Linked DNA regions of Homo sapiens. The protein of the gene in region 1 purifies or fractionates together with the protein of each later gene. This does not show direct contact. Each region holds a gene or a part of one and is shown in the gene's direction. Other genes may lie near its edges.

Evidence for each region.
Region 2: the proteins of TMT1A (region 1) and CCDC9 purify together in Homo sapiens (affinity purification with mass spectrometry; one large-scale study listed by BioGRID and IntAct). This does not show direct contact.

The regions. Positions count from the first base shown.
Region 1 is NC_000012.12:50,926,061-50,930,511, forward strand, and holds part of TMT1A (thiol S-methyltransferase TMT1A precursor), read left to right. Parts: intron 1-3,853; coding exon 3,854-4,090; 3' UTR 4,091-4,451. UniProt on the Homo sapiens protein: Thiol S-methyltransferase that catalyzes the transfer of a methyl group from S-adenosyl-L-methionine to alkyl and phenolic thiol-containing acceptor substrates.
Region 2 is NC_000019.10:47,258,549-47,263,024, forward strand, and holds part of CCDC9 (coiled-coil domain-containing protein 9), read left to right. Parts: intron 1-10; coding exon 11-115; exon of another isoform or gene 116-162; intron 163-1,772; coding exon 1,773-1,874; intron 1,875-2,039; coding exon 2,040-2,291; intron 2,292-4,476. UniProt on the Homo sapiens protein: Probable component of the exon junction complex (EJC), a multiprotein complex that associates immediately upstream of the exon-exon junction on mRNAs and serves as a positional landmark for the intron exon structure of genes and directs post-transcriptional processes in the cytoplasm such as mRNA export, nonsense-mediated mRNA decay (NMD) or translation.

The DNA.
Region 1 (4,451 bases):
AAGAAAAAAAAACTCCCCAAAACAAAGTTAAACTACAAAACAAGCTTGGAAAAAATATTTGCCAGGGATGATAGACAAAGGGTTAACTTCCCTCATGTTAAAAGACATTACATGTCAATAAGATCAATATTTTTCAATAAGAAAAACAAAAGGGAAAATGGGCAAATAACAGGAACAGAAATGTAAACCAATTATAGGACAAAAGTGCTCAAACTTAAAGAGTTAATTAAAGGAGATACTAATTTTACCTATTATACTGTTAGGGACTTCTTTTAAGGTCAGTATAGGGTTGGGGTGGGTTTAGGGGACTGGACACCACCATACACATTAGAAGAGGTACCCTCTTTGGGTGGTATCTGATAATATCAAAATTTAAACCACACATACTCTTTTATCCACATGCAAAAACTTGTCCATACACAAGAATATTAAGTAGAATTTGTAATTGCACAAACTGGAAATAACTGAAATGTCTATCAATAGGATGCTATGTAAGTGAGTTGTCATATTGTATAAAGGAACACTGTGCAGCTGTCAGAAAGAACAAGAAGAGTTATCTGTGCTGATACTTAAAAATCCCCAAGGGATAATGTTTAATGAAAACAAAAAGCAATCAAGCCACAGAATGTTAGGTAGAGCGTAGGCCCACCACATGCCCATTGTGTGAGGCAGGGAGAGGAGATACATATATGTGTATAAGTTAATGGGAATGACAGACAAGTAACTATTAACAGTGGTTGCCTTTGGGGAATGGGATTGGATTCAGGGAAAGAATTACTTTTCATTTTAAACCTTTCCGTAAAGTCTGTAATTCTTTATACCTGTATGTAGTTTTCACATATTACCCTTATTATTTTTAGCTAGTTTAAAATCGTTTTATATTCTGAACAAAGTTGAAGATATGGATATCTTAACATTTGAATTTACTCTTCTGGGGGAAAGGCATGTTTTGTAATCCCCAGTTTTCATTTTTTGTTGAGACAGGGTTTCCCTCTGTCACCCAGGCTGGAGTGCAGTGGCATGATCACAGCTCACTGCAGCCTTGACCTGCTGGACTCAAGCAATCTTTCCGTCTCAGCCTCCCCACCCTCCCAGCAGCTGGGACTACAGGCATGCACCACCACACCCAGCTAGTTTTTGTATTTTTGTAGAGATGAGGTTTCGCCATGTTGCCCAGGCTGGTCTCAAACTCCTGGGCTCAAGTGGTCTGCCCACTTTGGCCTCTCAAAGTGTTGGGATTACAGGTGTGAGCCACCATGCCCAACCATCAGTTTTATTTTCTAATAGAGGAAGTTCCTCAGGAAGAAAAGAACTTGGAGATAGGGTTTAGGGAAAATCATACAATCCTGTCTTGGCTCAATATCAGAGTAGTAAATAAAAAAGGACTGATTCTTATACCCAAATGCTGGGTTCTTATATGCTAAGACTGGGCACCAACTGGCACATTAGTAGATGTTTTGCTTACAGTGTTACTAATCTCCCAACACCGCTGCAAGGCAGGTAATTATTATCTCAGTTTTCCAGTGCCAAAAATCAATTGAACTCTTAAAGTTATCACATTCGTGATAGTCTTCCTTAGCTCCTGCCAAGCACCCACTCTCTGCTGGATATAACAAGGGAACTTTATTACATTTTCATTTAACCCTGTCAACAGTCCTCTAAAGTACATATCTTCATGTTAGGACAAAGAAACAGACTCAGAGAGATTAAGGAATTTGCCCAAAGTTACACAGCTAGTAGACATGGCTCTCTTTAATGCAAATGCAAATATTCCTTTTTTTTGAAACAGAGTCTTGCTCTGTCGCCCAGGCTGGTGTACAGTGGCATGATCTTGGCTAACTGCAGCCTCCACCTCCCAGGTTCAGTGACTCTCCTTGCCTCAGCCTCCCGAGTAGCTGGGTTTACAGGCACATGCTACCACGCCTGGCTAACTTTTATATTTTTAGTAGGGATGGGGTTTCACCATGTTGGCCGGGCTGGTGTCCAACTTCTGGCCTCAAGTGATCCACCCACCTTGGCCTCCCAAAGTGGTGGGATTACAGGTGTGAGCCACCGCGCCCAGCCAAATGCAAATGCAAATATTCTTACCACTGTACCACAGTGCTTGTTATTGGGGTTTTCATCTTTCTGATTTCAACATTGCTATCACTCTTGCTGGCTCTTCTTCCTCTACCCATCTCCTACCACTGGGGTTCCTTTCTTGGTGACACAGGATTTTTGCTCCTTAGCTCAGCTAGGTCCAGGTTCTTGTCTCACATTCAGGAAGAAATAGGCACGTGAACATGGAAGAGTGAGTGGAGTAGAATTTATCAAGCGAAACAGAAAGCTCTCAGCAAAAAGAGGGGTCCTGAAAACAGGTTGCTGGTTGCCCCCTTCGCAACTGAAAAGCTGATGGAGCTGGATTCCCTGTTTGTAAAGGCATGAATTCCTGGTGGCTCCACCCCATTCCCCCAGCGTGCATGTGGGGCCTTAGTGGGCTGCAGGCATGTTTAGGCAAGCCCCTGTGCAAGTTCCCTTATCTGCACAAAACATCTCATGTAACCATTTGTGGGACTGGTCAGAAGTTCTTCCGGGACCCTTCCCTACTGTCTGCCTAAAGCAAGCTGGCTAACTCCTTTCATTGGTTCATTTCACTTATATACACTCCCCAGCAATCTCATATACCTCCACAGTTCTCAAATACCACATATATACAGATGTTTCCAAATCTAAACATCTATCCCAGGTCTCTCTTCTGACCCCAAACCTTCATATCCAGCCGTCTACTCAACAGTCTCCTGGATTGCTCAGAGGCACCTCTTAACATATGTAAACCAGAGGGCAACACTGACCTCCCCAAACCTGCCTCTCCTCCTTTATGCTGCCCTATCCTATGAAGATTTTTTTTAAAATCAGGGCCGGGCACGGTAGCTCACGCCTGTAATCCCAGCACTTTGGGAGGCCTAGACAGGAGGATCACTTGAGCTCAGGAGTTCGAGACCAGCCTGGGCAATGCGGCGAAACTCTGTCTCTATAAAAAAAAAAATTAGCTGGGTGTAGTGGTGTGCACCTGTTGTCCCAGCTACTTGGGGGGCTGAGGCAGTAGGATTGCTTGAGCCCAGGAGGCAGAGGTTGCAGTGAGCTGAGACTGTGCCACTGCATTCCATCCTGGGTGACAGAGCCAGGCCCTGTCTCAAGAAATAATAAATGAATAAATAAATCAGGAAATTCCAATTTTTCTATTCGTAACATAGGTCTTACACTGACCCATATAATTTGGGGAAACTCCATCACTAAACTGAATTCTCTCTCTAAACTCTGCCTGAGGAGCCAAGACTAGGATAACTAGAGGAGGCCAAGAAGAGTGGTGCAGTTACCACAATTTTGTGAGGTGACTGTCTGGTCCCTTGCTCCTTACTCCCCTCAGAGGTAGATATGTAGAAAACTTCTGAAGATGTCCCCACACATAACATGTAATAACATCTATTGTGCCTGTACTTGATCAACATTTATAAAACTCCTCAATGAAAGCAGCAGTTGCTAATTCCTACAAAGAGTAATTTACATTTAGCATCCACTGACTGAATAAAATACCTAATGACAAAATGTTACCTTGAATTCAGTAATGATTTTAGATGAATCAGAATTTTCATTAATCATATCACGTACATATTTGTGAAAATGGCACAAAAATTTAAAACATGGTTATTCAGTCTCAAGGGTGTGCTTAGTGTGGAGTGACCCTCCTGCTCAGAACTCTACGGTTCTCTCACAGGTTTGCAAGGCAGTGCCAGAGAACAATTTTCAAAAAATAAATTAAAAAAGCAGAAATGAAAAAATCCTTGAAATGTTTTTTTTTTTCTTTCTTTCTCAGGGAGGGGCTTTCTATTTCATGGAGCATGTGGCAGCTGAGTGTTCGACTTGGAATTACTTCTGGCAACAAGTCCTGGATCCTGCCTGGCACCTTCTGTTTGATGGGTGCAACCTGACCAGAGAGAGCTGGAAGGCCCTGGAGCGGGCCAGCTTCTCTAAGCTGAAGCTGCAGCACATCCAGGCCCCACTGTCCTGGGAGTTGGTGCGCCCTCATATCTATGGATATGCTGTGAAATAGTGTGAGCTGGCAGTTAAGAGCTGAATGGCTCAAAGAATTTAAAGCTTCAGTTTTACATTTAAAATGCTAAGTGGGAGAAGAGAAACCTTTTTTTTGGGGGGCGGTTTTTTTGGTTTGTTGTTGGTTTTTTTTTTTTTTTTGGCGGGAAGAAAGAGTTTTGCTCTTGTTGCCCAGGCTGGAGTGCAATGACGTGATCTCCGCTCACTGCAACCTCCACCTCGCGGGTTTAAGCGATTCTTCTGCCTCAGCCTCCCTAGTAGCTGGGATTACAGGTGCCCACCACCATGCCCAGCTAATTTGTATTTTTAGTTGAGACAGGGTTTCACTACGTTGGCCAGGCTGGTCTTGAACTCCTGATCTC
Region 2 (4,476 bases), on another chromosome or scaffold:
CCGGTCTCAGGCAGCCACACTCGATTTGAAATCAAAGGAGGAGAAGGATGCTGAGTTGGACAAGAGGATCGAGGCTCTTCGGCGGAAGAATGAGGCCCTCATCCGGCGCTACCAGGTGCCCTAGCCCCGCCCTGGGAGACCCCATCCCCTCTCTTCCCCGCAGTGAGTTTTTCTCACCTCTCCCTTCCTTAAAACCTTTTCATGGCTCCCCATCACTGTCAGGATAAAGGCCAAAGGCCTTAGCCTGACATCCCTTCTTTCATTCCATTATTCATTCATTCATTCATTTGTTCACAAATATTCCCCAAGATCTTTACCAGCCCCAGTGCTGAGTGGTGCTGGGGATATAGCTGTGACTGAGACAGACCCAGGCCTGCCCCCTCCAGGGTCCACCGTCTAGTCAGGGAGACAGCCCTGTCCTCAGGGATGCCCCAGAGCAGACAAGTCTGGAATCAGGAAATTCAGGGGTCTGTGGGAGTCCAGAGGAGGCTCTTGACCCAGCCTTGGGGATATCAGGGAGGGCTTCCTGGAGGAGTGGACTCTGAGGCTTGAGTGGTGAGTAGACAATAGCCAGTTGAAAAGGCGAGGGGAACATGTTTCAGGCAGAAAGAACAGTTTGTGCAAATGTTGGAAGCAAGAGAGAGCTTGGAGCTTCAAGTTGGAGGGTTGGTTAGGAGAGAATTGACCTGGGCAGGTCAGCAGGGGCCAGGCTGTGCTAGGCCCTGAATGCCACCAGGATGAGTTTGGACTTTGTCCTGAGGGCACTGGGGAGCCAGGGAGAGCCTTGAGCAGGGGTGGGACCGGTCAGAACAGCTCTTTAGGAAGACGCCTCTGGGTGCTGTGCGGTGGTGGGTGCGAGGAGGTGATACTGGAGCCCAGAGACCAAGGAGGAAGCTGGGGCTGGAACCCTAGTGGGAGAGGAGGTACCTGGCTCAGGGCAGGGCTGTTGAGAGGGACTCAGTTACTGATGGGCAGTTCAGGGCAGGGGGAGGAAGAGGGAGGATTTAGGACAAGGCTGCTGAGTAGGTGATGTGGCTCTCCCTGAGATGGGATCTGGGAGGTGGCATGGGTTTCATTTATTCATTCTTCATGTATTCATTCATTTTAAAAAAGGCATATTGAATTTCCCTTGTGGGCCAGGCAGCGTTCTAGACTTGGGATACACGTCAGTGACATACATCACTGAAAGCAGACAGACATTCCTGTCCCCAGGCAGATTCTGCCGTAGTGGAGGAAGCAGACAGTGAGCGAGACGCATATGGTGCTGGGTGCAAATGGGATGAGAACAGAGAGGGTGGCAGGGGAGCTGGTTTCCACAGGGTGCTCAGGGAAGGCCTCACGAGAAGGCAGCATTGGAGCAGAGACCTACAGGAGGTGAGGGGTTGGAGGGTCTCTGGGAAAAGTGTTCCTGGCAGAGGGATCCGCTGGCGCAAAGCCCCTGAGGCAGGTTTCAGCCTGGTATGTTGTGGGAATAGCAAGGAAGCCGGAGTGATCGTGGGGAGAGGGTGAGAGATGAGGTCGGGGAGGTACCAAGGCCAGACCCCACGGGTCCCACAGGCTGTGGGGAAGGCTGTTACTCAGAGGGGCACCACAGGAACGTTCTGAGTGGGGCTGCAACGTGCTGAGGTTTGAGGGATATGAGCGGCCTTCTTGTTCAGAGTCCAGGAGAGAGGCCTGGGCTGGGGCCAGACTTAGGAGGAGTTCAGGGGTCTGGGAGTCCGTCTGGCAGACAGGGCACCTGATGCTTCCCTACCCCGGCTGTCTGCTCCTAGGAGATTGAGGAAGACCGTAAGAAAGCTGAACTTGAGGGAGTCGCAGTCACAGCTCCCCGAAAGGGCCGCTCAGTGGAGAAGGAGAACGTGGCAGTGGAGTCGGTGAGCTCGTCACTGGGGTGTGGGACCCTGAGGATGGGGAGGGGCAGAGGGTTGAGGCCTGGGACCCAGGAGCCCCCAGCTGTCCTGCACCAGTGGGTGGCCTCCATCCTGGCCGCATGCCTCCCTGCCCCAGTGACTGTATTTTCCCCATCTCCCCTCTTCCAGGAGAAGAACCTGGGTCCTTCCCGGAGGTCTCCTGGGACCCCTCGGCCCCCAGGGGCCAGCAAGGGGGGCCGGACTCCTCCACAGCAGGGAGGCCGGGCCGGCATGGGCCGAGCATCGCGCAGCTGGGAGGGCAGCCCCGGGGAGCAGCCTCGAGGAGGAGGAGCTGGGGGCCGTGGCCGGAGGGGCCGGGGCCGAGGTTCACCTCACCTCTCTGGAGCTGGAGACACCTCAATCTCTGACCGTAAATCCAAGGTAGGAGCTAGGCAGCGCCTGGAGCCCTGGCTGAGGTTCTCTGTTGTCTGTTTCTGTTTTTTCCTCCTCTCAGATGCACATTTGTCCTGTGTGTCCATCTTTCAGTATCTCTCTCTGAGCCTTTGCATCTGGCTCTGTTTCTCTCTTCCTCCACCTCCTTCTCCTCCTCCTGCTCCCCCTCTTCTAGTTCCCCCTGTTCCTTCCCTCTCACGCCTAGAGCTCGTGTGTTTTTCCTTGTCTCTTTCTCTCCTACTCCTGCTCCCCGTCTTCTTGTTCCTCCTCGCCTTCCTTCCCTCCCCTCTCCTGCTTAGTGCTGCGTGTCCCTCCCTGTCCCTCTCTGTCTCCCTTTTTCTCGCTCTCTGGTGCATGCTTGCCCACTCATCCTCCGTCCCCATCTCTCCTCCCTTTCTGGCACTGTGTGTCTGTCTGGTGGGCTCTCTCTATCTGGTGTGCTTGTGAGCACAGGCTCTGTGTGGCATTCTGTTTCTGTGTGTTTCTCTTGGTCCCCGGCTTTGGTTATGGGGAGCAGTGATTTTACTGTAACTACCTCACTCACCCCTGACGTGCAGGTCAGCAGGGTGGGAGTCTGTCTAGCTGAGTGGCTTACAGCCCACCGTGGACATGGGTTGAATCTGGTTCTGTGAGCTACCTGGCCTTGGGCAGCTCACTTCCCCTGTGAGCTTCTGGTTCTAGCACTTACACGGGAATAAGAAAATTCAAAAATTAGCTGGACGTGGTGGTGGGCACCTGTAATCCCAGCTACTTGGGAGGCTGAGGCAGGAGGATCACTTAAACCTGGGAGGTGGAGGTCACAGTGAGCCGAGATCATGCCACTGCACTCCAGCCTGGGCGACAGAATGAGACTCTGTATCAAAAAAAAAAAAAAAAAAAAAAAATGCTGGGCGTGGTGGCTCACGAGGCCTGTAATCCCAGCACTTTGGGAGGCTGAGGTGGGCGGATCACCTGAAGTCAGGAGTTCGAGACCAGCCTGGCCAACATGGCGAAACCCCATCTCTACTAAAAGTACAAAAATTAGCCGGGTGTGGTGGCACACGCCTGTAATCCCAGCTACTCGGGAGGCTGAGGCAGAAGAATTGCTTGAACCTGGGAGGTGGAGGTTGCAGTGAGCCGAGATTGCGCCATTGTACTCCAGCCTGGACAACAAGAGTGAAACTCCGTCTCAAAAAAAAAAAAATAATTAGACTTAAATTGGGCATGCCAAGCTGCTGTCACACAAAGACTCCAAAAATTTCATGACCTAAGTGGAGTAGGAGTTTATTTCTCCCTTGTATGCTGAGCCCTGCAGGGAGGTGGGTGGTCCAGGGGGTGAGGCCCTGCTCCATGATGTCACTCAGGGACCCAGGTTCCTGCTTTTTTTTTTTTTTTTTTTTTCTTGAGACAGAGTCTCACTTTGTTGCCCAGGCTAGAGTGCAGTGGCATGATCTTGGCTCACTGCAACCTCCGCCTCCTGGGTTCAAGCAATTCTTGTGCTTCAGCCTCCCAAGTAGCTGGGATTACAGGTGTGCACCACCACACCCGGCTAGTTTTTGTGTTTTCAGTAGAGATGGGGTTTCGCCATGTTGGCCAGGCTGGCCTTGAACTCCTGACCTCAGGTGATCCTACCGCCTCGGCCTCCCAAAATGCTGCGATGACATGTGTGAGCTGCTGCGCCCGGCCTGGTTCCTGTTTTTGTTGCTTGGTGGCCCCTAGGTCCTGGTCATTGTCTGTGGTAACAGCTGGGTTGCCGACATGGTTGCGGTTCAGTTCACAGGAAGGGGAAAGATAAGTCTGCTTTATCACTTTTGGTCATGTCCTGTTGGTGAGAACTTAGACACCTGGTCATACCTAACCTCAAAGGAGACTGGGAAATGAAAACGTTGTCTACAGCTGGCTGGCTATTTGCCCATCTAAAATTTTGTCACTAGCTTGGTTACTAGTAACAAGTAGTTACTAGCTACTTGGAATGCTGGGTGCTGTGGTATGGGCTTGTGGTCCTAGCTACTTGGGAAGCTAAGGTGGGAGGATCGCTTGAGCCCAGGAGTTTGAGACCAGGCTGGGCAACAGAGTGAGACCCCATCTCTATAAAAATTTTAAAAATTAACTGGACGTGGTGGTGTGCCCCTGTGGTCCCAGCTACTTACTTGGGAGGCTGAGCCAGCAGGATCACTTGGGAGGCTGAGCCTGG